2 separate regions of the Homo sapiens genome follow, and region 2 is linked to region 1. Evidence: fine-mapped expression QTL. A gene starts in region 1. The other region holds a variant in brackets. All regions are shown on one strand. Distances are from middle to middle. Region 1 holds the start of KLRF2 (killer cell lectin like receptor F2). Region 2 holds the start of CLEC2A (C-type lectin domain family 2 member A).

The links. PIP is the estimated chance that this variant, and not a neighbour inherited with it, causes the effect.
Region 2: its variant is fine-mapped to the expression of KLRF2 in sun-exposed skin (GTEx, PIP 0.97).

What each region holds. Positions count from the first base shown.
Region 1 is chr12:9,872,457-9,888,365 of GRCh38, forward strand. KLRF2 (killer cell lectin like receptor F2) reads left to right here and starts at 9,033. Exons shown (of 6, transcript NM_001190765.1): 1 at 9,033-9,209; 2 at 12,478-12,576. The coding sequence starts at 9,140. It also overlaps a transcript of CLEC2A not described here.
Region 2 is chr12:9,916,815-9,932,723 of GRCh38, forward strand. CLEC2A (C-type lectin domain family 2 member A) reads right to left here and starts at 15,556. Exons shown (of 5, transcript NM_001130711.2): 1 at 15,461-15,556; 2 at 9,446-9,529; 3 at 5,252-5,418. The coding sequence starts at 15,515. The variant C/G (reference allele first, on the strand shown) is at 7,352.

The DNA of each region.
Region 1 (15,909 bases):
TCACTGAACACACAGAGTTGGAAATAAATATGCAGTAGTACAGCATTACGTATTATTTTCACTATACGGATGTAACAGATGTTAATAATTTCATGCATGGATAATAGCAAAATCTTCTAAAAATCATCACAAATTGATGAGTTCTAAGTATTTATTTTATTAGCTTGGCATTAGGGCCACAATGACTCCAAATGTCATGACCCAGGTTAGGTTCCAGCCCATGCTGAGGTCTGAGGGGAGTGGGTGGATGGGCGATAGCTGAAAGAACACTTGGGGGCCCTAAGCAGGTGAAATGTAGTTTTATTTACCAACAGCGACTCTCTCACACTGTCTGCCTTTATCTCCGCTGTCTGCTCTGGCTCTGGGACTCCTGCCGCCGCCACGCCTGCAGCAGCACGCCCTGGCCTGCAAGGCCAGCTCTGTCAGGATTAGCAGCTTAACTCTTTCCCTCTGGGCACAAGCTCGTTCCTGGTTCCCCTCTGCCTGCCTTCAAGGCGACTGGCTCTCCCTTACAAGGGTCAATAGTGCTACTCTCTTTCTGGGCACCAGTGCGAGCCATGTCATGCCATGCCACGCCATGCTGAGCCAAGGCAAGCCCAAGAGCGCCTGTACAGCATCAGCAGGGCAGTTATACCTTTTCCAAACAATAGTGGATTTGAGCCAAGTATGAGCTTACACAAACAGGTTATATAACAAGTGGAGTTATATGCCTGCACTCCAAACTCATTAAGTCACTATGGCCTGGATGTCTGCCTCAGCCTACTTCTTGACCAAAGCACATTTATGCACCTTACTGTTGGTGCAAAAGTTACTTTAGATAATTTTTAAAAATAATGATGTTTAACAATTGGCTCGAGAACCCTTGAAAATTTAACAGTCAGCTGTATACCACTGACTTTGCTGGACATGTACAACGGGAAAGAAATCAAGGGTGGATTACTAGTAGGCTAAGGGCAACCATGTACTCAAAACGTATAAACTATTACCCTAATCTAGTTTGGCCCAAGCCAGTTTTCTGACAGAGGACCCAATAATGGGAGAACTCATCCTTAAAAAGAAGCCCTCTTCAACACCAAGACTAGAGTAAATGGTAAGTATTTCTCCAGTCCATCCCCAGTGCGACTTATATTAGGCTTCTCAAGCTACCATAATGAAATAACATAGGCTGGGTGGCTTAAACAACAGAAATTTATTTTTCATCATTCTGGAGGCTCAAAGCCTAAGATCAAGGTGCTAGCCAGGTTAGTGTTCAATGAGGTCTCTCTTCCTGGAGCCGACTACTGCCTTCTCACTGTGTCCTCACATGACATTTTCTCTGTGTATGTGCAGAGAGGGTATCTTTCCCTCTTTTTATATGTATACCAGTCTTATGAGATTAAGGCCTTACCCTTATGACCTTATTTAACCTTAGGTTCCTCCTAAAGACACTCTCTTAAAATATAGTCACACTGGGGGTTATGTCTTCAGCATATGTGTTTGGATAGGAGCACAAATCAGTTCACAACAGGATTCATGGCCATTTATTTGAATAACTGGGAAAAAATCCAGGACATACATTTCTAGGATTACAGAATGCAGATGTAAGTTGACATTGATTCCCAAGAAAGGATCATGACCCTCCTGTTAGAGTAGAAGCTTATGGAGTCCCAGTAATAGAGTATTTGCTTATGTCTGGTTCACAGTAGGCCCAAGGACTCACCCAGTAGACATTCTTTGGTCTTTGAATACATAATGGGACACCACATACTTAAGAATTGGTACAAAGTTCACATTGGTTCCTTGGCCAGCTTGGTATGTACTGCGGTGAGAAAGACCAAGGCTCCTGAAACTGCTCCCCTCCTCTCCACTGGACATGATAGTCAACCCAAAATAATTCTGCATTATAGAGCGAATGACAAAGGTTATTGCCACCCATAAATACCTCAAAGACACAAGGATGCTGGTATCCATTTACCTCTATTTTATTCACCAGTGCAGCTCTGACAAAACTATATGGATTCTGGATGATGACAATTGATTATTGCAAGCTCAATCAAACAATAATTCCAAGTGTAGCTGCTGATTTAAATACAGAATACTTGTTAAAGCAAATTACCCTATGCTCAGGTACAGAAAATATGGCCATTAATTTGGCAAAAGAATTATTTTTTTATCTCTTTTAACAAATGAGTACCAAAAATATTTGGTAGTTATTTAGGGCTGACATGAGTAGACACTTACATTCTTGCCCCAGGTCTGTTAACTGTCCCACTGTCTATCATAATATAGTGAAGAGACCTGGACTGCTTGGACAGCCTACAAAATTTAACTCTTGTTCACTGTGCTAATGACAGTATACAAATTGAACTAGATGAGAAAGAAGGAGCAAGTACATTGGAGACATTGGTAAGATGCATACACTTCAGTGAGTTGTGAATACAGCAAAGATTGAATGGCCACTGCATCACATCAGTGAATTTTTTTTTTTTGGACAGAGTCTCATTCTGTCGCCCAGGCTGGAGTGCAATGGCGCAGTCTCGGCTCACTGCAAACTCCGCCTCTCGGGTTCATGCCATTCTCCTGCCTCAGCCTCCAGAGTAACTGGGACTACAGGCACCCGCCAATTTTTTTATATTTTTAGTAGAGACGGGGTTTCGCCATGTTAGCCAGGATGGTCTCAATCTCCTGACCTCGTGATCCACCCGCCTCGGCCTCCCAAAGTGCATCAGTGAAATTTTTATGTTTACATGGGTTTGGTGCACGCCAGGGCATCTCTTTAAAAAAATAGAGGACACAATGTCTGGTAGTCTTCATTGGATACTGAAGGGCCATTGTTCGTACTTGGAAATAGAGTTCTAACATACATATTGGTGTGTCTGGAATTGGTGGGTTCTTGGTCTCACTGACTTCAAGAATGAAGCGGCGGACCCTCGTGGTGAGTGTTAACAGTTCTTAAAGGCGGCGTGTCCGGAGTTTGTTCCTTCCGATGTTCGGATGTGTTCAGAATTTCTTCTTTCTGGTGGGTTCGTGGTCTCGCTGGCTCAGGAGTGAAGCTGCAGACCTTCGCGGTGAGTGTTACAGCTCTTAAGGCTGCGCGTCTGGAGTTGTTCCTTCCTCTCGGTGGGCTCCTGGTCTCGCTGGCTTCAGGAGTGAAGCTACAGATCTTCGCTGTGAGTGTTACAGCTCATAAAGGCAGTGTGGACCCAAAGAGTGAGCAGTAGCAAGATTTACTGCAAAGAGCAAAGAACAAAGCTTCCACAGTGTGGAAGGGGACCCCAGCCAGTTGCCACTCCCGGCCAGGGCAGCCTGCTTTTATTCTCTATCTGGCCCCACCCACATCCTGCTGATTGGTAGAGCCCAGTGGTCTGTTTTGACAGGGCGCTGATTGGTGCGTTTACAATCCCTGAGCTAGACACAAAGGTTCTCCACATCCCCACCAGATTAGCTAGATACACAGTGTCCACACAAAGGTTCTCCAAGGCCCCACCAGAGTAGCCAGATACAGAGTGTCGATTGGTGCATTCACAAACCCTGAGCTAGACACAGGGTGCTGATTGGTGTGTTCACAAACCTTGAGCTAGATACAGAGTGCCGATTGGTGTATTTACAATCCCTAAGCTAGACATAAAGGTTCTCCTTGTCCCCACCAGACTCAGGAGCCCAGCTGGCTTCACCCAGTGGATCCCGCACCTGGGCTGCAGGTGGAGCTGCCTGCCAGTCCCGCGCCCTGCGCCTGCACTCCTCAGCCCTTGGGTGGTCGATGGGACTGGGTGCCGTGGAGCAGGGGGTGGGCCGGCACTGCTGGGGGACCCAGGGACCCAGCACACCCTCTGCAGCCGCTAGCCCGGGTGCTAAGCCCCTCATTGCCAGGGGCCGGCAGGGCCGGCCGGCTGCTCCGAGTGCGGGGCCTGCCAAGCCCACACCCACAGGGAACTCGCGCTGGCCCGCAAGCACTGCGCGCAGCCCCGGTTCCCACCCGCGCCGCTCCCTCCACACCTCCCCGCAAGCTGAGGGAGCCGGCTCCGGCCTTGGCCAGCCCAGAAAGGGGCTCTCACAGTGCAGTGGTGGGCTGAAGGGCTCCTCAAGTGCCGCCAAAGTGGGAGCCCAGGCAGAGGAGGTGCCCAGAGCGAACGAGGGCTGTGAGGACTGCCAGCACGCTGTCACCTCTCATTAGGGGACACAAAAGGCTGCAAGGCTCCCATCGTGGCCCAGAGAGTAAACATGGACTCCTCCGCAAATCTGGCTGCAGCAGAAGCATCTCTACCACTGGAGCCATGTAACTTACCGCACTGTGTAATACCAGAGGTATCAACGGTGAGAAAAAATTTTGTGGAATTTATGGCCAAGTCCTAACGGGTGAAACATAATTTCTACTGATCCTTTGAGTCCTAGAGCAATACCAGGTCAATTATAGCTAAGCATTTATAGAGCTTTTGTGAAATAGCTCCTGGCATGCTACTGGACCTTGCAGAAATAGATTACTTGGATGTGAGTCAGCAGGCATCCGTATGTTCTGAACTGCCATTAATAAAATGAAACCCACCCAGGCGCAGTGGCTCATGCCTGTAATTCCAGCACTTTGGGAGGCCAAGGCGCGTGGATCACTTGAGGTCAGGAGTTCAAGGCCAGCCTGGCCAACATGGTGAAACCCCGTCTCTACTAAAAATACAAAAAATAGCCTGGCGTGGTAGTGGGTGCATGTAATCCCAGCTACTCAGGAAGCTAAGGCAGGAGAATCACTTGAACCTGGGAGGCAGAGGTTGAGTGAGCCAGGATTCCACCATGGCACTCCAGCCTGGGTGACAGAGCGAGACTCCCTCTCAAGAAAAAAAGGAAAGAGAAACCTGTAAGACTCACCAAATATAAGTTCAGGCACTCCCAGCAGCAATTCATTATATGATGAGATTGGTATATCCAGAATCAGCACAGGCAGATTCTCAGTGAAAAGGCAAGCTGAAGACCCCTATGCCAACCAGAGAGCACAGGCAAGCTTCAGAAATGATACTAATGATACTATCCAACTGTTTCACTGGCACCTCTCCCTCGGCTCATGTCTATGGCTGTTTAAGATATTTCCTATTACCTGCTGATAAACAAGGAATAAAGTTTAGTTGGTTCTCAGAAAGGTCTGTTTTGGATGTAGATGAAAGCTCTAATTGGACGATGGTTACACGACAGCACCACTAACTGAGCTTCATAAGACAATAAAAATAACTCACATTTAAAACATATATGAACTCCTGGGCAATGGGTAACATGTGTCTCTGTCTCTGCCACTGGAGTGAAAGCTCCACGAAGTCATGAAATCAGAGGGGTTTATCTGTTTTACTTGTTGATGTATTCTCAGTGGTTAGAACTGTGGCTGTAGCATAACATATATTCAAAAAGTCTTATTGAATGAATCAATATACGAATGAATATATACAGAGGAATAGTCATAAATACATTAGTAACAGAAAATGAACAAGGCACAAATAGTTAACCCATAACAATGCATATACAGTCAGTGTATCCAAAGTTGTCTAAACACAATGAAAATCCAAGAAATCTAAAGTGAAACAATGCAGCAGCCTATCAGATTAAAAATGTGTCTATAATCACTTGAGCTCAGGAGTTTGAGGGTACAGTGAGTTATGATGACACCTCTACATCCAGCCTGGGTAACAGAACAAGACCCTGTCTGAAAAAAAAAATGCCCATTTAAGATTAAAATGATAATCTGGTATGGGTGTGGGAAATTCTAAATTTCAGAAGCGTAGAAGTTGTAACGTTTCTGGAGAGAATGGAGACTTCCTTTTATTAACTAATTCATACATGAGGATATGAATTTTGTAAAAGATGCACATTTTCTATGTCTATTTTGGATTTGTGGGGCATCAGATTTATTGAGTATCTCAACCCTTAAAGATACTCTTTTGTTTTATATGGGCCAAGGGGAGAGGGCAAAAGGAGACTAAATGCCATGAAGGAATAATGTCAGCCCACACGGAGTTTGAGCCAAGATGATGGCTTTTAAAATGGGAAGTAATGAATTTACTAGGGAAATACGCAGGGGGTTAAACTGACAGAACTTAATTACTAACTATATAGAGAACACTGAATAAATCTATAGTTTGGGAAAAACATTAAGATACAAATTTTAGACATCTTCAAGTTTTGATACTCTAAAATATTTCAGCATTCAATCCCACCAAATCTGTTAGACCCATACTGAGAGAATTGGCCCAGGCATAGAAGGTAAAGGGAAGAGAAGTTTCTGAAGGTACTTGATGGCCCTTGGGTAGAACTGAGGGGTCTGGCGCCCAGGATGGAGGGTGGGGGAACAGTTTTAAAGTTGCTACCTTTTATACAGTGAGGAGGCTAGGCAGTCATTGACCACCTTCTCTCTCCTTTCTACAGCCTCCTCCAGGCTTTGATTTCCTCTCTTCAAGGTCAGTTTTGTGAACCGATTTTTTAGGAGGATGGGGGGATGGAGAATGCTTTTGTGAGGGAACCTGGTGACGACCTGCTGTGGCAACTGTTCACTGTTGACTATAGATGTATTGGGAGATGCTACAGCGGAATCAGGCTTTCTGATATCAACGGCAATAATTTGATTCTAGAGGTCAAGGGGTTGCAGTTGCCACAATAAGCCAGAGGGAATGATTAGTAATCAGAGTTTTCATCCACAGAAATCTGTGACAATGATTAGCTGATTTTAAGTTTTGGGAAATGAAAAAAAAAGAAAAGAAAAGAAAAACAAACAAAAAAGGATATTTCACTAAGGAGCTGCTTGATATGCTAAGGAAAATTACATGTATGTTGCCCAGAAACTTAGCCCGTATTTTCAGAGAGGAGATTCATTGTGTCTTACCCAATCCCCAGACTTCCATATAGTTAGTAGGCAAAGCTCTTCGCAGACCAGGAACCACTCAACTGGGGAGGAGGTAGGTTTGGTCTCTTGGTGAAGGACATTGTAACATGGCCACAGGTGTAATTATGATATTTATTCCCCAACACCTAAACCGGAGGAAACTTCAGTCATTTTCTTGAATGACTATACACTGGGAAAAAGCTGAGAACCTGTGATGGTTTCCGGCTTGTATTTACAAACAGAAATAACAAGTATTTCTTTGCTGCCTTGCCCAGGTGTATGTCAGCTCTCCTGATCTCTGTTATAAGATGGCCCAGAGGGAACTAAATCATCTTGATATAGCTCCCAATATGTTATACCTCAGAACTGGTTGCACACAATAGATTCATTACATTGATGCTATCATGCCAACTGTTCCTGGTGAAAAGTAGGCAGTAAACCTACTACATATTTTTATAAGACATATGTTCACCACCATTAACTTGATCCAACTTGACCACTTTGACCCAATGAACCCTATGTTTAGAAGTGCACAGAAGCATTTTATCACAAACATAATTGTGCCATTTTGGAGGCAAGGCCTGAACAGTTCCAAAGAAGCACAGTAAACTGCATGAGCAGATGGCTCAGACTCCGATGGCACATGTTCGCATTCCTTTGCTATCTCCACCTCAACCATACCTATGACCCGGGTTGGGGATGGAAAAGAGGGTTCTGTACGATCTTACACTGAAGTAGTTGAAAAAAATAAGTTTATCAGTGGTTATGTAAAATACGGCAGCTGGAATAGATGCCACACTACAGTCCCATTCAGGAGAAGACTGTGAAAGACAGAAGTGAAGGTAAGTCTTCCCACTGAACAGAAGTTTGGACAATATGTCTGGTTGTGAACCTAACAGGAAGGATAAGCACTCAGAGAAATACATCTAAATCATCTTATCAGAAACTAATAGGTGAGATGACTTGTCGGAAACTCAAAAAGAACAAAATAGAAAAATGAATGAGAAGCTAAGAGGTACATATAGAGATCATGCAGAATGGACGCGGCGTGTGTAAATATTCATTCCCATGTAAATACTCACAAGTGACATCCAGTGTTGAGGAGGAGACTCAATAATCAGGTGAACACAACATGTGCTGTGGGAAACAGTCAGCCACCTTCCCCAGACACTCGGTGTTAAATCAATGGATTGATATTGAGTGGCCACGTAGCAGAAACAGAACCATTAGCATGTGTGTGTGTGTGTGTGTGTGTGTGCGTGTTAAGTGAAATATATATAAAATAAGGAATGTGATTATGGAGGCTGGTAAGTCAAAATTCTGCAAATGAGCATGGACAGACTGGGTACCTAGGAAGGCTCAATTCAAATGCAAAGTCCACCGTCTGTAGAATCAGGAGGAGCTAATGCTGCAGATAGTCTGAAGGCCATTGCTGGAGAATTCTCTCTCACTCAGGGAAGACAAGTCTTTTTGTTCTATTCAAGGCTCCAACTGACTCAATAAGGCCCAGTCACATTACAGAGGAGGCAAATCTGCCTTACTCAAAGGTCACCTATTTAAATATGAATCCCATCCAAAAACACCCTCACAGAAATAAGCAGAATGATGTCTGATCAACTATCTGGACTCTCTGTGACTCAGCCAAGTTGACACAAAATAAACTGCCACACCTACTGAAGGAAAATCTGCCTGGCGTTTTCTGAAAAACAAACAAACAAACAAAAAAGTTTAAAAAGTTAAATTCTTTGCAAGTGATTCCGATTTTCACTAACTTGAGACTTGCTGATCTTTTATTTTCCTATTTTTGTCCCATCTAACCATCGTTATTTGGACTCTACTAGTCAAATATGTCCCAAATAACAAAATTGCTATTTTAACTTTTTTAATTTGAATTTTTATTTACCTAGACATTTGTTCTGTTTGTTTAGAGATTATTTGTTTTATTTTATTTTTTCTCTTACTTTATTATAAAAGACATGAAGGAAGGAATTATGTTTCTAATACACCGCACACAAGTGGCAGGAACACACAAGTCCATTTGTTGAAAACAGTGGAACACACTAGCTACCTTTACCTTGAAATTCACAGAATTGTAGCCAGATATTAACAAGCTTATATCCATTTTCATTTACCAACACATCCTGTGTGGTTTTAGACATCTGTGTCTGAGTAAATTTTGACTATTTTTGGCCTTCCTTTTAGTTTTCTTTTAGTACCTTGTGCCAAAGAGACATATCCAAGGTTGAGATTAGTTTCCATTTTCTTTGTACTATTTTCTGGATAATAAGACATTAGACATTTGAAGAGATGGAGAATGAAGATGGGTATATGACGCTGAGTTTCAAGAATCGTTGTAAATCGAAGCAGAAATCTAAAGGTAGGAATACTGCTCCCCATCACCGCATTTAAAATTTCATTATTCTTCTAGGAAGAGAATTATCTTAGAATATTTTTAACATCTTAACATTGATCATAATAAGGAATATAAAAATGGTCATAAATTGTCTGTTAGATTATTTAGATTCATGAAAGCATCAACAATAAAAAGTCTGCATTTTCAGAGCCATGAGGTAAGAGAAATGCGAATATGACGATGTGTAATCCTGTGTGTTGTAGCATAAGAACATCACTTTCGAAGAAAAGGCTGAAAAATTGTGTTTTTACAGAAACTTCCTCCTACAAAACTTAAAGTTTATATAAACTTAAAGCGTATATATATGCTTATATATATATTTATGCTTATACATATATAATATTTTTAATCTTCGTAAAAGCCCTATAGGATTGGTAGAACAATCTACTGGGAATGCGAGAAGAGAGAAAAAAAAACAAAAAAACATTAATCTTTGCTCCTTAGGGCTGCTCTGTGGTTGGCTTTGTTTGCTTTTTCAGGAATTTTGAAAACAATCTTGTTGAAATAGCCAAGACCTAAGTTAAGATGACATAGGCCAGAAATTCAGAATTACCAGTCGCAGTGGCAGTTCTGCCATATGTATTGAACATTCTCGTGTACAATCTCATTTTATATCTAGCAAATGCAAACTTCCCCTGCACCCCCTGCCCCCACAAAATGACACTTTTGTTATTATCTGAAGACTCAGATCTTTTTTGTGTTTCAATATCATGAAACAAATGTTTACTTTTTCAATAGTAACTTACTTCCATGCAGCAAAAACTAGTACCATTGGTGTTAAATTGACTGAGGCAGACCAGGCACGGTGGCTCATGCCTGTAATCCCAGCACTTTGGGATGCAGAGGTGGGCGGGTCACCTGAGGTCAGGAATTCGAGACCAGCCTGGCCAACATGGTGAAACCCCGTCTCTACTAAAAATACAAAAAAAATTAGCTGGGTATGGTGGCGTGTGCCTGTAATCCCAACTACTTGGGAGGCTGAGGCAGGAGAATCGCTTGAACCCGGGAGACGGAGGTTGCAGTCAGCTGAGATCATGCCACTGCACTCCAGCCTGAGTGACAGAGCAAGACTCCATATATAAAAAAACAAAAAAAATTATTCAGACCCTAAAGCCCACAGACTAAATGTATGGCTCTGGGCAGAAGCTTTTAGCCTTCTTAAATCTCAATACTTTGATATATAATAAGAAAAATCTACCTGATGATGCTTTTATGTGGATGTTAAACTAAATTTACTATTTTTTAATCTATAAACTACTTTTTAATATACAAATGTGTACAGAGACTTAAAATCTGAGTATTGATACATAAAATATAAGATAATATCCATTTAAATTATGAATGAAGGAAGGATAGGGCTGGGAAAATAAATTGGGCCAGAAAAATTACTGTAGGCATGTTTGTGCTTGCTATACATTTGCTTCCAAGCTTCCTTGTTATTACTGACCTAAGGGAATTCTTACCAGTTGTTCAGTTCACATTGTGTATAAGATAAAGTTACACCTATTCCTTAAGATTGATATAATTAATCTTGATCCTAAATCAGAAAAAATATTTTCCTGAGTTCTCATGAAGCACATAAAATAATACAATTAGTGTTCTTGCAATAGTAGCACCAGCAGATTTTGTAAGACAATTTCTTCATATAGCCCTGTGTAAGCCAATGGCATCTAGCCAAGCAGTGCTAGGATAGGCCAGCATACTGCACTTCATGTACTCAGCTCTCTGTTCACCTGGCTTGATATAGTATGTAAATCATGGCTTACATGAAAATATTAATTTTTGGTCTATTGTTCAGTTTTTTATAAATCTTATTTGGCAAGAAGTTTAAAGTCTCCCTCCCTGGCATGTATGGAAAGAGCACTTGTTAACTACAGATCCATATACCCTTGATTGATATTTTCTCATAAAATTGCAGAAATGTATTTTGACGATTTTCAATTAAGTAGAAGTCTTTCCATATTTGCTTGAACAGCAGAAATATCTACAGGGAAGAAAAAGAAAGAAAATTATTTTGGACTTAGTAATACAGACAATTGAGTAGCAAATTTCAAAAGGTACACTACATACAGTAAATTCTCTAAGTATATACTATAGATCTAATCAAATGCAGTAAATCCATAAAACCTATTGAAGTAAAGCATCCACACAGAAATTAGATTTGAGAAACAGCACTTTTATTATGACTTAGAAGACAAATTATTTGTGAAATGTACAACCAAGGTGATGAAATTAAATGTTTGTTTATAGATAAAAGAATAAAAAATAGGGAATAATTATCAGAGTATCTCAAATTACTTTGCTTTCTCTTTGGCCACTAGCCTGGCAAACTGACTAAAATGATTGTAGATTGAGATATTAATTATATGATGTCTGCATATAAAAGGAACCTGTCATAGTTTTGTGAAAAAAGTGTATACATCCAATTTATTCAAAAGTGCTAATATGTGGAAAAAAGTAGATAAAATTGAAAGAGGATTATTATACATGCCCCTGTTTAACCTCTCTAGAGATTACTTGTTTATTCCTTTATAAGGAAGCTATTCTTGCCAACTCTAATGCGATGAAATACTATAGCATAGATGTCATATAAGCATCATTAATTGGAGATCTAATACTACCTAAGCTGAAACTGACTCCTGTCTAAAGAGTCAAACCCAGAAAAATATAATATATTACAGGTGTAAGGTGAAATAAAATGTGGATATTTCCAGTACAGTGACTGGTATATAATAGAATTTTAATAAATATTTCTTTCCCTCTTTTATTTCTTAGCAGTGAGTCACTAAATTGAATAACACACGTAATTGTGCCTGACATAGATATATACATTTTATATATTATTCTTTCTATATAATTTACATGTATAGAATAATATATATGTTTACATTGTATATATTTATATTTTATATAATATGTTATAACAAATATTTATATCATATATAATATGTATTTGTATGTATAATTTATATGGAATTTAAGACATCATTTTTAGGTCCTCAAAAACACCACCAAATAATTAACAAGTCTATGTCAGTACAATCCAAAACGTTTAATAATAGTAGTATCTCCTTGGTTTGGGATTCTAGACTTTTTATTTTTAGATTTTCATTTAATCATAAATTCTAATGACATATCTAAAATGAACATGAGTTGTCTCTGTAATAAAAATGAAACAGAAAAATATTTATAAAGTGAATAATCACAAGAATTCTAAAATTCAACATTTCAGATTTCTCCCTATATCCACAATATTATTGTCTTCTGCTCATATTTGGATGCATTGTGATCCTTATATTCATTATGACAGGGATTGACCTGAAGTTCTGGCGTGAGTAGTAAATTTTTATTTATTTGAACATTTTCAGAAGATAAATGTTGATCCTTCATTCCTCTTAATGCCAAGATAAACTCTACACTGTAGTCCAAAACTGGCATATGTCATATTATAAAATTATATTAAATTTAAAAAATTAAATGCTCAAATGCAAGCTTGGTATTTATTCTGCATCTTTTCTTATAAAGAACCCCCAATAGAGGTTGACTTTATTATCTTATAATTAAAAAAGTAATGTATCTTTACTAAAAGAGTATGTGCTCATTGGTATCACTTTGTGAGATCATTATTTAAGTATATATATATATATATTAAGACCCATCTGAAAACCATTTTAGGTAGACTTCCAGACTTTTTTCTTCCTGAAGTGGTACTTATATGTGTATACTGTAGCTATTCTATTTGAACAACCAAAGAAATTCATTATCTTTGATTTTTCTGTCTTGCTTTTAAGGCTGTGAGCTCAAATGAGTAGTGTTTTACATATAACATGACAGGAAATAGATTTTGGGGGCTTTTGAGATGAGATTTCTAAAAATAGGTGAGTCCTAAAGCAACTTCTGTAGCGTAGAAGATCCTTTACTTCTTAATAAAGGATCCATATTTGTATTGGGCAATTGGGCAATTTTGTGTTTTTCCCAATACAACAAGGGAAAATATCAGACTTTTCTCAGACCAAAGATATATCCTACTTAATGTATTTTTTCTCTAAATATCAATCATATACCTCAAAATTGTTCAATGCAACATTGAAATCAATTACTAATTACCTGAAAATGTCCACTTATTTAACATTCAATGTTAAACGACTATTTTTAGTCGTTATGAATCTATCTAAGTAGGTATTGCTTTCTGTTAACCAGTAATTCTAAGAAGTTGAATCCACTGTAGTAATTACTATGGCTTTAAAAATGTTCCTAAAATTCAGGAGATAATTTCTTGTTAGACACTGAGTATGACCTTTACAGGCCACTCTGCTCTCTTGTAAATCAGTTTTCTCTTCAAATAAAATATAAATGGTAAAATGACATAAATAATGCAATAATTATTCTTTTAAAGAAAAACGCTATTGAGAAGAAATCAATGAAATTTGACATGTTGATGAATTACTAGTAGTAAAAATATTTTTTTCTAGCCATATTTTTTATTCTAATAAATTAGTAACAATTACAATATGTGTGTTTCTATAAAATTTGTCCTTGGGTTTTGACCAGTTTAAAATATTCTTCATGGCTTCCAGTCAAAATGGAGTATTGACCATAAATATTTATATCTCCTCTCTCCCAATAATCTATCCATAGAAGAAGAAAAGATAACAAAATAGAGTAAATTAATCAAAGCACATAGAATGGAAAGGGGAGAAAATTTTAAAGAAAATGAAAAGTGGATAGCATAATGCTATTGGATAAATCAATGGGGAGAACCTTAGTTCAAATAAAGCATAAAAGACAGCTGCAGTGTAGATGAAAGCTGTTCATCATGGTTAAGCTAAGGCAGGGCTCCATTTCAGAGAGGAGAGTCAGAGGGTAAATGGAGGTCTAAAACAAGGTAATTCTTTAATACATACAATGCTTATTACCAATTAAATTTAAAAATAACTTTTGAAAGCCAAAAATATGAAGCAAACTAATTAAGTGAAAGACTTTCTAAGCCATGCTCTTTTTGATTGGTGTCTTGTCAATCTGTCGGTCTATTTACACAGTGGATTTTGCCCCTATATCATGCAAAAAAAAAAAAAAAAAAAGAGAGAAGAACTCTCTAAAACAGTGAGATATATAGATAGAGCCAGGTAGAGCTCCTGATTTATGGACTGGTGGTCGGTGCAATAAGGTGTATACCCACTTGTTTTGGTTTTGGAGTGAGAGAGGGGAGTAGTGTGTAGGTCTACTACATAGCTTGGCTATTTCTTGTGCCATTTCTTCTGAAAAGTCATGGTAGCTAACCAAATATCCCGGAGCACAGAGCAAAATGTCAGAAAAAAAACATAAATAAATATAAGAGGATATCTGAGATGGAAAATCAAAAAATGCCTATTTATCCAGAAAGGTCAATAGCTCTTTTAACAAGCTTCCAGAAGAAGAAAATAGGTGAAAAAAAGTAGATATAAAATAATGAAAAAAGTAATATAAACCATTTCTCAAGAGTAAAAGCAAAACCAAAAAACATGAGTTTTCAGCTTACAAGAACCCACTAAGTTCGGAACAGAATACAAAAACAGATAATACATAGAAAGAGATGATAGATTAGATAGATAAAGATAGATAGATAGATAGATAATTTCAGAACACCATGAGTAAAAATATAATCCTAAAGGGTTTACATAAATAATTAGTTTTCCCCCAAAGCAAATTAGCATCAGATTTTTAAACGCACCTAAAAAGATTCTACTGGAGCAATGCCTTCAAAGTTATGAGCAATCTTGATTTTAACTTAGATTTGAAACAAGAGTAATCAAGTAAATATTTTTTCCATTCATTGTTTTGGAATAACAACAGCAAAAAAGAATGTGGGAGGTGGGTGGCTAACTTTGGATAGAATGAAGCTAGCCCAAGAATATAATTAAAAGACTTTTCAAATTAACAACTGTTCTGTTTTCCTAGCTAGCAATTAATTCTGTCTATATGAAAACAAACTATAAATAATGCAACTAGGAAGCTGAAGGAACTTGATGATATGGTCAAAAGAGTTTTTTTTTTTTTTTTTGGTCTGCAACAAGGGAAAATAAGATCAAGACTAGGCGTTGGAGCTCATGCCTGTAATCCCAGCACTTTGGGAGGCCAAGGCAGGTGGAGCGCTTGAGCCCAGGAGTTCCAGACCAGTTTGGGCAACATGGTGAAACCCCGTCCCTAATAAAAAAATACACAAAAATTAGCTGGGTGTGGAAGTGTGCGCCTGTACTCCCAACTACTTGGGAAGCTGAGGCAAGAGGATGGCTTGAGCTCAGGAGCCAGATGTTGCAGTGAGCCATGATGGCCCACTGCACTTCAGCTTAGGTGACAAAGCCAGACCCTGTGTCAAAAAAAAAAAAAAAAAAAAGTTAAGAATAGTAATAAAAATGAAAAAAAAAAAGAAAACAGAATGTCAATTAAAAAGTCCAGTGAAAAAAATAATATACAAAAATGTAACATCATACATGAAGTCTAAGATCTCACATAATATTTAGAATTGCAGGCCGGGCATGGTGGCTCACACCTGTAATCTCAGCACTTTCGGAAGCCGAGGCGGGCGGATCACGAGGTCAGGAGATCGAGACCATCCTGGCTAATATCATGAAACCCCATCTCTACTAAAAATACAAAAAATTAGCTGGGCATGGTGGTGCGCGCC
Region 2 (15,909 bases), 44 kb after region 1:
CAAAGGGAATCAGCGATTACTTAATATGTTACAGCACATTGCTGAACATGCTTCCCACCCCAATTATTCTATCTTTTAGGATTCACATTCTAATTTGTCTTCCCTGATGCTTCTATAACAACAAACAGCACAGATGTTGATGTTTGGGTTAGTTTTATCAGAAAGATTTTCATTTTGCTTTTTTGCATCTTAAGTATCTCCAGATAATTGGGCTACAACCAAGTCATTGATACCCTTTAGTATGAATGTCACTGATATTGTATGTTTTTTCATATAATCAGAGATAAAACTAACTTCTATATAAATATAATTTACTGCAATGAAATCTATTATGTGATGGCTTTAGTCACTGCTCTATTGGCTTTTTGCTATTAAGCCACAAACCTTTCATTAGCTTTTTGTTCTTTTAACTTTTATTTTAGGTTCTGTGATATATGTGAAGGTTTGTTACAGAGGTAGACTTGTGTCATGAAGGTTTGTTTTACAGATTATTTCATCACCCAAGTATTAAGCCCACTAACCAATAGTTATATCTGTCATATCTGCCATCACATAGTTCTGGGTTAATTATGGCAATATGCTAATTGAGATCAATAGGAGAGGACTGGAAAGTGTTTTATGTACATCATTTACATAGGCACTGAACAAACTTCTGTGTTAAACAGAACAATTAACTAATTAAAAGTGAGTCTTACCCAATCCAAATATACATGTCAGTACTAGATCAAAGATAAAAGTAGACAGACTCATTAGTTCACAAAAGTCATTTAAAAATTAACTCATCCATAACAAAAGAATCATAAGTCAATCACGTAAACACCACCGCAACCATTGTTGTTCTGGTTTTAGCTCTTTGAGGAATTGCCACACTGCTTTCCACAATGGTGGAACTATTTTCACTCCAACCAATAGTGTATAAGTGTTCTTTTCTCTACAACCTTGCTAGCATTTGTGGTTTTTTGACTTTTTAATAATATCCATTCTGACTGGTGTGAGATGATATCTCGTTGTGGTTTTAATGTGCACTTCTCTAATGATCAGTGATGTTGAGCTTTTTTTCATGTTTGTTGGTGAAATGTATGTCTTCTTTTAAAAAGGGTCTCTTTATGCCCTTTGCCCAATTTTAATAGGGTTGTTTTTCTCTTGTAAATTTGTTTTAAGTTCCTTAGAGATGCTGATGTTAGACTTTGACAGATGCATAGCTTGCAAAAGTTTTCTCCCATTCTGTAGTTTGTCTGTTTACTGTGTTAATAGTTTCTTTTGCTGTGCAGAAACTCTTAAGTTTAATTAGATAATATTTGTCAATTTTTGCATTTTTTTTTACTATTGCTTTTGTTGTCTTTGTCATGAAATTTGCCTGTTTCAATGTCCAGGATGGTATTGCCTAGGTTTTCTTCCAGTCTTTTTATAGTTTGGGGTTTTACATTTAGGTCTTTAATCCATCCTGAGTTGATTTTTGTATATGGTATAAGGAAGGAGTCTTGCTTCAATCCTTTGCATATGGCTAGCCAGTTATTCCAGCACAATTGATTAAATATGGAGTTCTTTTCCTATTGCTTGTTTTTGTCAGCTTTGTCAAAGATCAGATGGTCGTAGGTGTGTGTCCTTATTTCTGGGCTCTCTATTCTGTTCCACTGGTCTATGTGCCTGTTTTTGTACCAGTACCATGCTGTTTTGGTTACTGTAGCCCTGTAGTATAGTTTGCAGTCAGGTAACATGATGCTCCTAGCTTTATTCTTTTTGCTTAGGATTGCCTTGGCAATTTGGGCTCTTTTATGATTCCATATGAATTTTAAAATAGTTTTTTCTTTCTAATTTCATGAAGAATATCATTGGTAGTTTGACAGGAATAGCATTGAATTTCTGTCAGTTCAATGCCATTCCAGCCAGTTCAGCCTCGTTAAGAACTCTTGTTGGAGAACTGGTGCAGTTGTTTGGAAAACATATGACACTCTGACTATTTGAGTTACTGGAGTTCTTGCATTAATTCTGTCTCATCTCTGCAGTGGGTGTCAATTTAACTGCAGTGTATATTTAGTACAGTCGATAGATCTCTTTTCTGTTTGTTTTCATAGGGCTGAAGCTTTGTGCAGGGTCTTTATTTGAAGGTGACTTCTTTAATTTTAGAGGGGGTTATGTTAGTGAGATATTTTTGGTGTTGAAGATTTGAGGTGTGATCCAGTAGGTTGCGCTTGGACGTATTTGTCAGTTGGGAGACTCTTGATCCATTGTGTGACTCCCTTACTTTTCCTCACAGTTGCAGCCATGTTCTCTCTCAATGTTCTGAAAATGTGGGTTTCTCTCCCACTTGAGTGCTGGCTATAGATTGTGACTTGGCAATTCTAGGCTGCCCACTGCAGCTCTTGGGTGATCTCAGTGTTTATGTTTCTTCCCCAACTTGGAGGCAGCAATGGAAGAGACCTTAGTAGTGGTTAAAGCCAATGGTCTTTTGCTTTTCTCCTGGGAGCTTCACTCCAGAGAGATGCAAGTAAGCAATCATTCAGTGCAATCAGCCCAGGATGGAGGGTCTCTGCTGTGGGCCCAAGCTGGAGGTTCCATGTCTGGTGATGAGCAAGGTGGGTGAGCAGAGCCTGTGGAGATGGACTGGCCTCCTCTCCTGCAACTTGTTGGAGGTGTGGATGAGAGACTTAGGGTCTTTGCTCCTTCATTAGTCTGAGGGCAGCAAGGGCAGTTCCAGTGCAGAGGCAGTGGCAGAGAGGTTTCCTGTTGCCCCTGGAGGCTCTCTCTAAGACATTCCAGAGCTGCTACTGGCTCAATAGCGCTTGCGAGGGGGGCTGGAGGCCCAGGCCTGGAGGACCCTCCTGGTGAGGAGACAAGGAGATGGGCACTCATGTAACAGTCTGGCCACTTTATCATAGGGCTGCTGTGGTATGCTGGTGGCCATCTCCAGTCCCTATTTACCTCGGATTTTCTGATACCTGTAGGTACCAACAGTGAAGCCTACAAAACAGCAAAGAAGGTGGCCTGCCCCTCCCTCTGTGAGCTCTGTGCCAGGGAGGTACATAGCTATTACCGGCCCAAGAACACCTGTAGGAGGCAGCTAAAGACCCTGGTTAGAGATCCTGCCCAGTGAGGAGGAATGGGATTGGGTACCCACTTACAAGGGCAGTCTGGCCACTTTTTTGTAGAGCAGCTGTGCCGTGCTGGGGGACCACTTCCACCCCTGGTCAACTTGGACTCTCCAAAGCCTGAAGGCTGGATGGCTAAGTCACCCAAACAGCAAAGATGGCTGCCCACATCTCCCTCTGGGAGCTGTTTCAGGGAGGTGCAATGCTGTTATTGATGGCTGGCTAGAACTCCAAGCCAGTGGGTCCTATCCTGTGAGATGCCATGGAAGTGGGTCCTGCAGAATGTCGCTGCTCAGCCTCCTGGATTCAGCCCCTTTACTAGGGATGTGTAAGGGGGTCTAACCTCCCTCTTCGCTGGAGTTTCAACTACTTTTGCTGGGAAGCCTGGAACTCCTGGCTATCTGAGGCTCCCGGGTCACTGCACATGCCTGAGAGGCTGCTCTTTTGAAGCTCCACTTAGCTCTGTGTGTCAGACTGAAGGCCCCGGTGGAGTTGGTTTACAAGGGGATCTCCTGACCCGAGGGTTGCAAAGATCCATGGGAGCAGCATGGGTTCCAGGGGTTGCACATTCACTCACCACTTCCCTGGGCGAGGGGAGTTCCCCTGGCTCCATGTCGTTCCCAGGTTGGCCATCGACCTGCCTTGCTTTTCTTCATTGTCTATGGGTTGAGTTGTTTCCTTGATTAGTTCCATTGCGTGTACCCTGGATGTTTCAGTTCAAAGTGCTGTATTTACTCACCCCTTCAGTTCCTCTCTTTGAGAGCTGCGCACTCCAGCTACTTCTAGTCGGCCATCTTGGCCACTCTCCAACCCCCAGCTTTTCTTTAAAAACTAATCTATTTTCTTACTCTGTGTCCCTAGAGTCCACGTGTCTCCTTCTTTGCCCTCTTTACTTCCATTAATTCACTCGCGTCTTCGAAGTGCACATATTTCCTTCATTTCCTTGTCTCTAAATTCTAAGAGCTGTATTTTTAAAAATTTTTTCTGTCTATGCTTGGTAGAATGCAAATTGAAAAGGGTTTAAAAAATCTACTTAATAATCTAAGAACATTTAACGAAGACATTTAGATACATAAACAGTATGCATTGTGGTAAAGGACATGGCATCACTAGTCATCTTGCCTGGGTTCAAATCCCAGCCCAACAACTTATGGCTGTGTCATTGGCTGGGTTACATAACATTTCTGTGACTGACTTTCCTCATCTTTAAAGTAGGGAGAGTTATATAACTCCTTCATGGGTGTTAGTAGAAGATTACATGAGATTATATAGTTTCAGTGCTTAGAACACTGTTGAGCACACATTGTCATACACAGTTGACTCAAACAATGTGGCAGTTAGGGGCACTGACCGCCTGTGCAGTCAAAAGTCTGTATATAACTTTTGACTCCTCAAAAAGTTAACCATGCTGTTTATGGTATCTCATGCTAATTCTAGCACTTTGGGAGGCTGAGGCAGTAGAATTGCTTGATCTCAGTTTGAGACCAGCCTGGACAACATAGTGAGACCTCATCTCTACAAAAAATAAACAAAATTAGCCAGGAGTGGTGGTCTGCACCTGTAGTCCCAGCTACTCAGGAGGCTAAGGTGGGAGGATTGCTTGATCCCAGGAATTCAAGGCTACAGTGAGCTGAGATTGCACCACTGCACTCCAGCCTAGGTGCCAGAGTGAGACTCTGTCTTAAAAACAAACAAACAAACAAACAAAAAACAAAAACAGAAAACTTAGCCACTAGTAGCCTGCTGTTGACTGGAAGTCTTACTGGTAACATAAAAGTAAATTAACATATATTTTCATGTTATTTGAATTATATGCTGTATTATTACCATAAAGGAAGCTAGAGAAAAGAAGATGTTATTAAGAAAATCACAAGAAAGAGAAAATCTATTTACTATTCATTAAGTGGAAGTGAAGACATCGTAAAAGTCTTCATCCTCGTTGTTTTCATATTGAGTAGGCTGAGGAGGGGGAAGAAGAGGAGGGTTTGCTCTTGCTGTCTCAAGGGTGGCAGAGGAAAAATAATCCAGGTATAAGTGAACCCACACAGTTCAAACCCATGTTGTTCAAGGATCAATTGTATTATAGTATTAGCTATTATTGTTTTATTATGTTTTTATACAAACAATCTCTGAAATTACTGAAGACTTTTCTGTTTTCTTACCATGTCTTCTTGTGTATCAATCTGAGCAAGTTCTGCTTTCTGCAAACTACAAAATATTTTACTGGCTGTCCAATTTCTGGTATCATCAGAAAAATAGAAACACTTATCTCTCACTCCAAGCCAGTCCCCTGAACATGCCACAGGTTTAGCATGCTTGGACCATGTGGCTGAAAAAAAAAGAAAGAAATGATCAGATAAAGCATATGTTAAAAAGTGTTTCTACTCATTCAGGTGTATTAATTTTACTTTTTGCTTCCACAGTTTGAGGCCCGTAAGTTAGCTTCCCCCCTCCCCAGAATGAGGATGAATTAACTTCCCCTGTCTGTAAGGAAGATCATTTAGTGATCAAGCAGTGCATACTTTTTTCTATTTCCCTGGCTTCTATTTTGAGAAATGGAACCACTAGCTTCTCATAATCTATATTAATATCCTGCCAAAAACAATGCATAAAATGTAGCTATAAATTCTGCAATCAAGGTAGAGTGCTGGAGATCTGCATGTAATTTAGGTTTCGAGGTTAGGGTAAGAAATGGAGGCTTTCCTTTACCTATGAAAACACCCAAGCTAGGAAAGTGAAACTTGCCATAAAGGACAACACATAAGTGAAACATAAGAATTAGTGAAACCTTTGTTTCATTTCATTTACATCCAGTGCTGAAGAATATGGAATAATAATGAAAGCACATTGTTTGGAGATTTACTGTCTCAAGGTTTTATTTAGGTGCTAAGTATTCAGAATAAGACAAGTCCATGCATTCCACATGTTTGAATAAATTAATGCAAGTAATAAAGAGCCAACTATATGCTCAAATGTAGGGCAAACTCCAAAGGCTGCACCCCCTACTCCACCATGATTTATTATTATTATTATTATTTTGTAGTGCTCAGAAGTGGATACAGGCTACTACACAGGGTGTAAGATATAATGTGTTTCAACTCTGTCTCTGTGCTCTTTTTGTTGTGTTTTGTTTTGTTAAACTTTAAGTTCTGGGATAAATCTGCAGAGTGTGCAGGTTTGTGACGTTGGTATACATGTGCCATGGTGGCTTGCTGCACCTATCAACCCATCTTCTAGGTTTGAAGCCCCGCATGCATTAGGTATTTTGCAATCTATCCATTTGACAAAGGACTAATATCCAGAATCTACAAAGAACTTAAACAAATTTACAAGAAAAAAACAATCCCATCAAAAAGTGGGTGAAGGATATGAACAGACACTTCTCAAAGAAGACATTTACGCAGCCAACAGACACAGGAAAAAACGCTCATCATCACTGGCCATCAAAGAAATGCAAATCAAAACCACAATGAGATATCATCTCGCACCAGTTAGAATGGTGATCATTAAAAAGTCAGGAAACAACAGGTGCTGGAGAGGATGTGGAGAAATAGGAATACTTTTACACTGTTGGTGGGACTGTAAACTAGTTCAACCATTGTGGAAGACAGTGTGGCGATTCCTCAGGGATCTAGAACTAGAAATACCATTTGACCCAGCCATTCCATTACTGGGTATATACCCGAAGGATTATAAATCATGCTGCTATAAAGACACATACACACGTATGTTTATTGTGGCACTATTCACAATAGCAAAGACTTGGAACCAAACCAAGTGCCCATCAATGATAGACTGGATTAAGAAAATGTGGCACATATACACCATGGAATACTATGCAGCCTTAAAAAAGGATGAGTTCATGTCCTTTGTAGGGACATGGATGAAGCTGGAAACCATCATTCTCAGCAAACTATGGCAAGGACAGAAAACCAAACACCACATGTTCTCACTCATAGGTGGGAATTGAACAATGAGAACACATGGACACAGGGACGGGAATATCACACATTGGGGTGATGTTGGGGTTGGGGGAGTGGGGAGGGATAGCCCCCCTGTCGTGGGGTTGGGAGAGTGGGGAGGGATAGCATTAGGAGATATATCTAATGTAAATGACGAGTTAATGGGTGCAGCACACCAACATGGCACATGTATACATATGTAACACAAACCTGCACATTGTGCACATGTACCCTAGAACTTAAAGTATAATAATAAAAAAAAGAAAAAAAGAAAAAATAATAATCGCCATACTGACTGGC[C/G]TGAGATGGTATCTCATGTGGTTTTGATTTGCATTTCTCTACTGACCAGTGATGATGAGCTTTTCTTTATATGTTTACTGGCCACATAAATGTCTTCTTTTGTCTTTCTGCTCTTTTTAATCAATGAATAAATGAACATAAAAACTTACTGTAGAAACTCTTGTCTATATTTAACTTCCAGATGTTTAGACAGCAATAACATTAAGCTCTAAGACTACACTGACAGTAGAGACTATAAACAAGAAGACTATCAGTATTCTTGAGAATGACCGAAACCCAACCCAACCCAACCCAACCCAACCCAATCAAACCAAAACAAAACAAAGAGCAGTGCTACTTAGCCAAATATAAGTGCTAAATTAAGCAAACCATGCATATGGAAAATCAAGTGCTGGGGACTATTTGGCCATGGCTCAGGAATTAAATTCTACCTTTGGATCTTTTTCACAAAATAAACCCATAGAACCCAGAGGAAATTTAACAACTTCATTTTTACAAATATTGCAATTCCAATGAGACAGTCTTGCAAAAGGTCACATATGCCGTTATTTCTTTGTTTTTTTTCATTTAACTTAATATGATAGTGAAGGAGTTCAGAACATGATGCCCCGAAATATGTCACTCAGGCATATAGACTCTTTTGAGTTAAACGCACTTTTAAAACAGCAGATGCAAGAGAAAACACTCTGAGCTTCCTTATTTTTCTTATAAGCAGGAGATAAAATACCTTTGTGAAAGATATCTTCTCTATACCAGAAGGAAAGCAACATTCTTATAGTCAAGGATAGGTAGTTGAGGCCAAAGGAAATGTGTGCAAACAACATTTGTTAATTTAACATTTATCTTTCCGGTCACTTTTCTACCCAATTAATTACCCTAGATCAAACCTCTTTGCCTTGCCACATTTTCATAATTTATTACCCTTTGTTGAATTCAATATATAAGTGTTCAACTCTACCTGCATCTTTAGGCTTTCATAAGGAAGACGTGCATGTCACGTCAAACTTATATTAACTAAACGCATGTGCTTTGCTCAAGTTGATGTGTCTTGTGTCAATTTCATTCTCAGGCCCGCAGAAAAACCCTGAGCGGGTAGAGGTAAGATTTTGCATTCCAACTAATAGAAATAAATAAAGTTTTATAGAACAAACTATTAGTGACATAACTTACTCTTGATTAAAAAGAAATTAAAGGAATGCTACAATTATGAAGGTCAAGCTGCATGGTTTTTAAAATTTATCAAGCATTAGAGTTATACAGCCAAGGTGTTTGATCCTAGGTCTGGAATGTATTATTTGTGAGAGGCAACTTACTCATTCTGTCCTGTATATTTTTTATCTGTAAATGGATTTTCTTATACCTGTATCCTAGTCTAATGAGGATTAAATACAAATAGCAGAGCATAGTGTATTTAACATTAGCTCACTAATTCACAAACTCTAAAAAAGAAAATTATCTGTAACAAGCCCATAGAACTGATGTTTATGTGGGATTTTTTTTTATAAATATAGAAATTGATCCTCCTAGTTTTAAAACTTGAAACTTACATTTGTCTTATTTGAGTTCATTCTTTAGGAATCTGACCTTTAGTCCTCTCAGATAGTAACAGGAAACCGAAAGTCACCAGATCACCACTTCCAGACAAGGGACTCCTCACTGCCATGATTGTCTAACCGACCACCTGCTCCCTGTTGACCAACTCTTCTTCCCTACCCCTCCCTAATTCGGGAATAGTCATTGTCTCCGGGATTGGCTTTCTGTGCCCTGAGCAATGGGACCTAGACTGAACCCCTGGCATTTCAGTAACATCGCTATTGCTGTTGCCATCTGGTGGTCATCTAAGAATTTAAGATTATTTTTCTTAAGCATCAAGGACTATAAAGTCAAGAACATAATTCTATTGTAAAACTGAGAGTGTTTGGGGGAGAGGCAAGGATTATGGTAAAAACTGTTGAACTGGTAAAAATTTGAGGACAAGTGTCTATAAAACCCTTTAATCACTCTAGATGTGGGAGATTTGGAGTTAAACTTGAGATATACATGGACCCTTCAGGAGTGAAGAACCATAGAAAGTGTATGAATTAAACCACTCACCTATCATAATAATGCAAACTGTAGTAATAATAATACTCAGGAAGCACATAAGGCCAATCTTCCAGTTTTGTATCAACTTGGGAACTGCAAATTAAATCAACACATATTTTACAATTTCTGAATAAACACTGACTCGATATTATTACTGGTGTATTCCTCTCCTATAATTGTTAATCAGGAAACCCTCAATCAAGTACATACATCTCAAAATAACAAAGGATAGCAAACCATCAAAAAGTGCAAGGAAGATAAGTACCAAAAAATGATTGCTATAGCTGTTCGGCTCGAGAGAGTGGTGAGTGGAGAAATCACTGAGTTTTGGGGGAATGAGGAAGGAAAGGAAAGGAAAGTTTACTTAAAAGGTAGAAATAGTTTGAATGGGGGATTTTAAGCAAAAAGGCATAAAGATCATCAAAAGGTCCACGATTAGAGCAAATGTTTATAACAGATATATAAGGCAATAGGATTAAAGACAGGAAAGAAAGGAGTCATAAGGTCATGACAGAAGACCTTAAATGAGAGATATATTTTTCTTTATTCTTTAAGCCATGGAGGAAATAAACAATGTGTTTCAGCCAGAGAATATTCAAGATAAAAGCAGTAATTTATTTATTTGTGGTAAGCAAACAAAATTAGAGAAAACTCAGGATTTGACACTCGTGGAAATGCTATGAGGTTAAGAACAAATAATAATTCTATTAATGATAAAGTAATTGTAGCTGATATATCATTAGTAGATGTAGAAACAATCTAGGAAGAATGTGCGTGTATGTGTGTGTCTGTGTGTGTGTGTGTACAGTCATGCATAGCTTAGCAATGGGGAGATATTTTGAGAAATGTGCCTTTAGGTGATTGTGTCATTGTTGGAACATCATAGAATGTACTTACACAAACTTAGACAGTATAGCCTACTAACACCTAGGCTATATATTACAGACTGTTGCTCCTAGACTACAAAACTGGATAGCATGTTATCGTACTAATTACTGCAGGCAATTATAACACAATGCTAAATGCTTGCGTCTAAACATAGAAAAGGTACAGTGAAAATACCATATAAAAGATCAAAAATGGTACACCTTTACAAGGCAGCTTCATTGTAATCTTATGGGACCATTGTTGTTATGCAATCTGTCATTGACCAAAACATTGTTCTATGGTGCATGACTATATGTGTATATCGTGCATATATGCATAAACACAGATTATATATATGTATGCATGCCTATATGCATATATATGCTTTATATGTATGTATATATACATGTACATATACATACATATATTTAAATATCAGAAAAGAGGACTTGAAGAAAGAAAAATTTAAAAAGAAGTCATGTTTTCTCTCTTTCTTCAGAACTTAAAGCAGCCTTAGTGAATGAAAACTTGAAAAAGTTACTAGTTTTCATGATCACCAGACTACAGATAATGTGCAATAAAGTAATTTCAAGACTGGATTGAGAGAAGCCAGATTCTGAGATGTTTACAAAGAGAATGTTTGATAGGAAGAAGAGTTTGGTAATTTATCTTACATCTAGAGAAACAATAGCTAAAGATAGAAAACATAAAATGTGTTTTTTTTTTCAAGATTAGGGAGAAATGAAGAACAAGGAAGAAGAAAAGATAAAAACCACTGCACAAATTTCAGACACCCAAAATAGTAATTTGTGGGCAAAGCCATGTCTTACACAAAAGGTATTGAAACAATTGAGAAAAAAAGGCTTTACCATACGACAACATCAGCTTACAAAATTTATTTAAGACGTATTATTGACCTGAACATAAAACCTGAAACCATACAATTTCTAGAAAACATAAAATAGTTTGTGACCATGAGAATTAGTAAAGCTGTCTTAGAGAAAGAAGAGAAAGTACAGTGTAAAATTAAAAGAAAATGATAAATTGAATTTAATTGAAATTTAAGGGCTGGGCACAGTGGCTCATGCCTGTAATCCCAGCACTTTGGGAGGCCAAGGAGGGTGGATCACCTGAGGTCAGGAATTTGAGACCAGCCTGGCCAACATGGTGAGACCCCTTCTCTACTAAAAACACAAAAAATTAGCTGTGCATGATGGCAGGCACCTGTAATCCCAGCTACTCGGGAGGTTGAGGCAGGAGAATACTTGAACCCAGGAGGCGGAGGCTGCAGTGATCAGAATTATGCCACTGCACTCCAGCCTGGGTGACAGAGTGAGGCTCTGTCTTAAAAAAGAAAAAGAAAGAAAGAAAGAAGAAGGAAAGAAAGAAAGAAAGAAACCTCTGCCCATTTCAAGATACAAGACACTGTTGTGAATATAAATATGCAAGTTACAGACTGGGAGAAAATAGTCACAATATGTGTATGCAAAAAAGACTGGTATCGAAAATACTAAAAGGTCTGTAGTTTAGAGATATAGTACAAACAACTTGATAAAAAAAAGAACCAAAGTCTTGAACAAATACTTACAGAAGAATACACGCAAGTGAGCAATAAGCACATAAAAGATGTTCCATATTATTAGTCACAAGCAAAATGCAGAATAAAACCACAATGGAATATGACTACATGCCACTTGCACTGTTAAAATGAAAAAGACTGACAGCACCAAGTGTTAGCAGGATATAGGGGAACCGAAACACATACACAACTGGTTGAAGTACAAAAATGTATAAGTGTTTTGGAAAATTCTTTAGCAGTTTTTATTTTTAATTAAAATATATGTCCTTCATTCCTGTTCTGGCATGTGATATTTGCAATAGATTGGAAGTCATCCCTACTGTTCTCACAGTGACAACAAAAAAAAAGCTGAGAAAACTAAATAAAAACAACACTTCTAGTATACAGAAATAGTATTGATTTGTTAAATGTGCTCTTTTAAGTAACCCTCTTGAACTCTGGTATTATTTTTAATAGTTTTCTAGTTGATTCTATTGGTATTTATTTTTATATAATCAAATTATCTGAAAATATTGCAGATACAACTCTTCCATTGCAATCCTTGTCCTTTATAATTCCTTTTGTTTTCTTATATCACTGGTTACCTTTAGCATTGTACTACACTATTGCTAAACAGTAGTAGTTACAGTGAACATTTTTTTCTTGTTTTTAATCTTAAATGGAATGTTTAAATTTTCATTATTAAGCACTGTAAAAATGCTGTATAAATTTAACATACAACATTAGCAATTTAAAAAAGAATTTTTCTATTCCTAGTTTCTTAACAGGGACTTATCTCAGATAGACATTGAATGTTATCATGTTTCCTTGTTGTTATCAAATGCACTTACTGAATAATTGTGTGGACTTTCTTTCAAAAAATTTTAATATTTTTTGCACTGATATTCTGATATCTAAGCATTCCTAACATAAATCCACTTGTATATGAATTTTTAACTGCTTTGTTGTATATAGTAAATAAATATTTTCTTGGAATTTCTACTTCTAATTTCATAAGAAGATGAGTCTGTTTCTTTTTGTCTTGTTCTGACTTTGTTTGGAAATCAAAAAGTCTATTAAATCGGGGTAAATTTCTCATTTTGCTGTTTTTTGAAGCAAGATGTCCAATACAAAAATTAGCTATTTCTTGAAAGATCAGTAGATTACTCTATTTTAGTTGCCTTTTCAATGTATTTATTTTTAATTTCTATAATTCTATAATTATTTATTTCTTCTCATTACATTTTGGCATTTTATATTTTTTAGACCTCTACCTTCTTTTTTTAATATTTATAAGCGCATTAGTGTTTTAGTTTGCTAGGCCTGCCGTAACAAGTTGTCACAAACTGGGCGGCTAAAATTAACAGGAATGTATTGTCGTACAGTTCTGGAGACAAGAAGTCTGAAATTAAGATGTTGGTCGGATGGGTTCCTTGTGAGGCCTGTAAGGAAAGAATCTGTTCCAGGCCATTCTCCTTGGCTTGAAGATGGCATTCTCCCTGTATATGGATCCGTCTCTAAATTTTCCTTTTTTATGAGAACACCAGTAATATTAAATTAGGTCCCAACCTACCGACCTAATTTTAACGTGGTAAAGACACTATCTCCAAACCAGATCACATTCTGAGGTAGAGGGGGTTAGAGCCTCAATATATAAAATTTTAAGGGAACAGAGTTTGCCCCATAATAATTGATGAATTATTTCCATAATGTTTTATTAAATTTTAATATTTGTGGTTTTTGTGATTATTTGTACTTTTTTGATATTTTCTTTATTGTATCGTCTTCTGCAAACTTTTAGACATCTAGTTCTCTCGTCTTTTCTAATAGCCACCATTTGATTTGTTATCCCTCTCATTTCTTCTCTTTTTCACTAACGTCTCCTATTATCTCATTTTTTAATTTTGTATATTTTTCTTTCACTCTATTGTGCCAGATGCATGTTTTTTTCTTATCTATTTTGTTTGTACACTTTTGAAGTTTCAGTTTGAGGTATTTGGCTTTTATTAGTTTTAGAAGTTGGAATATTATTTCTTCAAATATTTCCTATCCGCTATTCTTTTTTTCTCTCTCTCTGTTTCAGATTCTTGTTATCTAGAAGGTGGCATTTCTACTTCTATTTTTCATATCTCTCAGCTTTTATTTTATATTTTCTAACTGTTTTCTTTTCTGTCATGTTTTTAATAGCATCTCCTAGGTCTTATTCATTCTTAATCAGCGTCCATTCTATTAATTAACTCCTCAAAGTGTTCTTTATTTCAAACACTATATTTCTATAATTATTATTTTCACTTGGTTTTTATTGTGTTCTTGGTGCTTCTTCATTTCATTAATATCTTTTCTTTTGGAGCATTTTTATTATGCTTTAATTAAATTCTCAGACTAGATGTTCTAATGATTCCTGCAGCCCGGCTTTCTCATAATCTTCCAGTACATGCTTCACAGTACTTCATATTTTGTCTTCTCGTTATGCAATGAGATAAATTTTCTTCCACTTTTTACTCTCTAAACTCTTAAATCTGTTACCCAGACAAGCCTGACTAATTTATTTGGCTAAAGGGATGGAATCTTATTTCTTTTTGTAATACTAATGTCCAATTGTGTAAAATGTAGACTAATTTTTAAAAATTTTCTTATGAAGTTTTCATAGATCAAGAGTTCGTAACTATGACCAATAGTTAGAATATACAACGAAGTAAATTTAACCTTACCCTAAAGAAACTTCTAAATAGAACATCCTTAAATTAAAATGGAAAGTCTTCTAAGACAGAGAGATATTATCACTGAAAACATTCTAGTATAGGCTGCTAGAAATGCTGTAGCTAGAAATCGTATGGTAGATGAAAAGTTTTACTAGGTAGCTACTGAGGTCTCTTCAACCTTTAAGAGTATCAGGCTTACTTATTATTAAAAGAATTATCCCAATTGCCCTGGGAATTCATATCAGTAAACTCTGATAGTGGTTTCAGCTGGAGTCCTTAACTCATTTCAAGATTTTACTTTTTATCTCTTCACTGTCTTTATCTTAAAGTTTTGGCAGGCTTCCTATTCCAGTCATTTGGCATACAATTCATTCGTTTTCTTTAACATAAACCCTCAGAACTATTGTGAATGGAGGGTGTTTGTATGTGTACCTTGTTTTTATTTATTGGTTTGTTTATGTTTCAATCCACTGAAAACAAACTTCATTGTTGGCCTTAGCTGAATCTTAAAATTTTTGAAAAGTTCTTTTCAGTCTTATGAAGTCACAATCATCAAGCCTCCTTCCAGAGTGAAGCATTTGCTTTTTATTCTGTATAAAAGTGTTAAGCAATTTTTTCCCTGTGAAAGTACATTTTAAAAATATTCTTATTGAGATATAATACACGTACCATAAAATTCTGCCCCAAAACCTTCTTACACACAAGCTTATACCCTCTCTTGCAGACATAAAACTCTACATGCTCTAACAGGCTTCCACAATTCTCCGGAAGTGCTTCCCCATCCCTCACTTACTTTAGTAGACTTTCACAGTAAGTAAAGAGTCCATATTTTTAAGCTGTCCTGTATTTTGTTTTATCTTTCCTTTACTTCCTTCTCATTCACTCTATAAAACTTACCTATCCGATGTATGAAGCCATCAGCTCTGCCATCCCGCAGCTCTGGATTAATCATGGCAAGGCGCTAACCGATGGAGATCAGTAGGAGAGGACTAGAAAGCTTTTCATGTACATCACTTATTTAGGCACTGAGCAAGCTTCAGTCAAAAGAGACTTAACCAATCCAAATGGAAAACATCAGTACTAATTTTAGATCAAAGATAAAAGTAGGCAGACTTGTTAGTTTAAGGAAGGAATTTAAAAATTAACTCATCCATAACAAAAGGATCGTAAAGTCAATCATGTAAACACCACAACAACCGTGCTATGGAACATTTCCATCATCTTTCTTTTTTTCCTTGTGTAATCACTATCTTTTCTGACCCTGGACCCTGGCAAGCATTACTTTGCTTTATATCAACATAGTTTTTCCTTTCATGGAATTTTTTTTTTTTGAGGCAGGGTCTCAC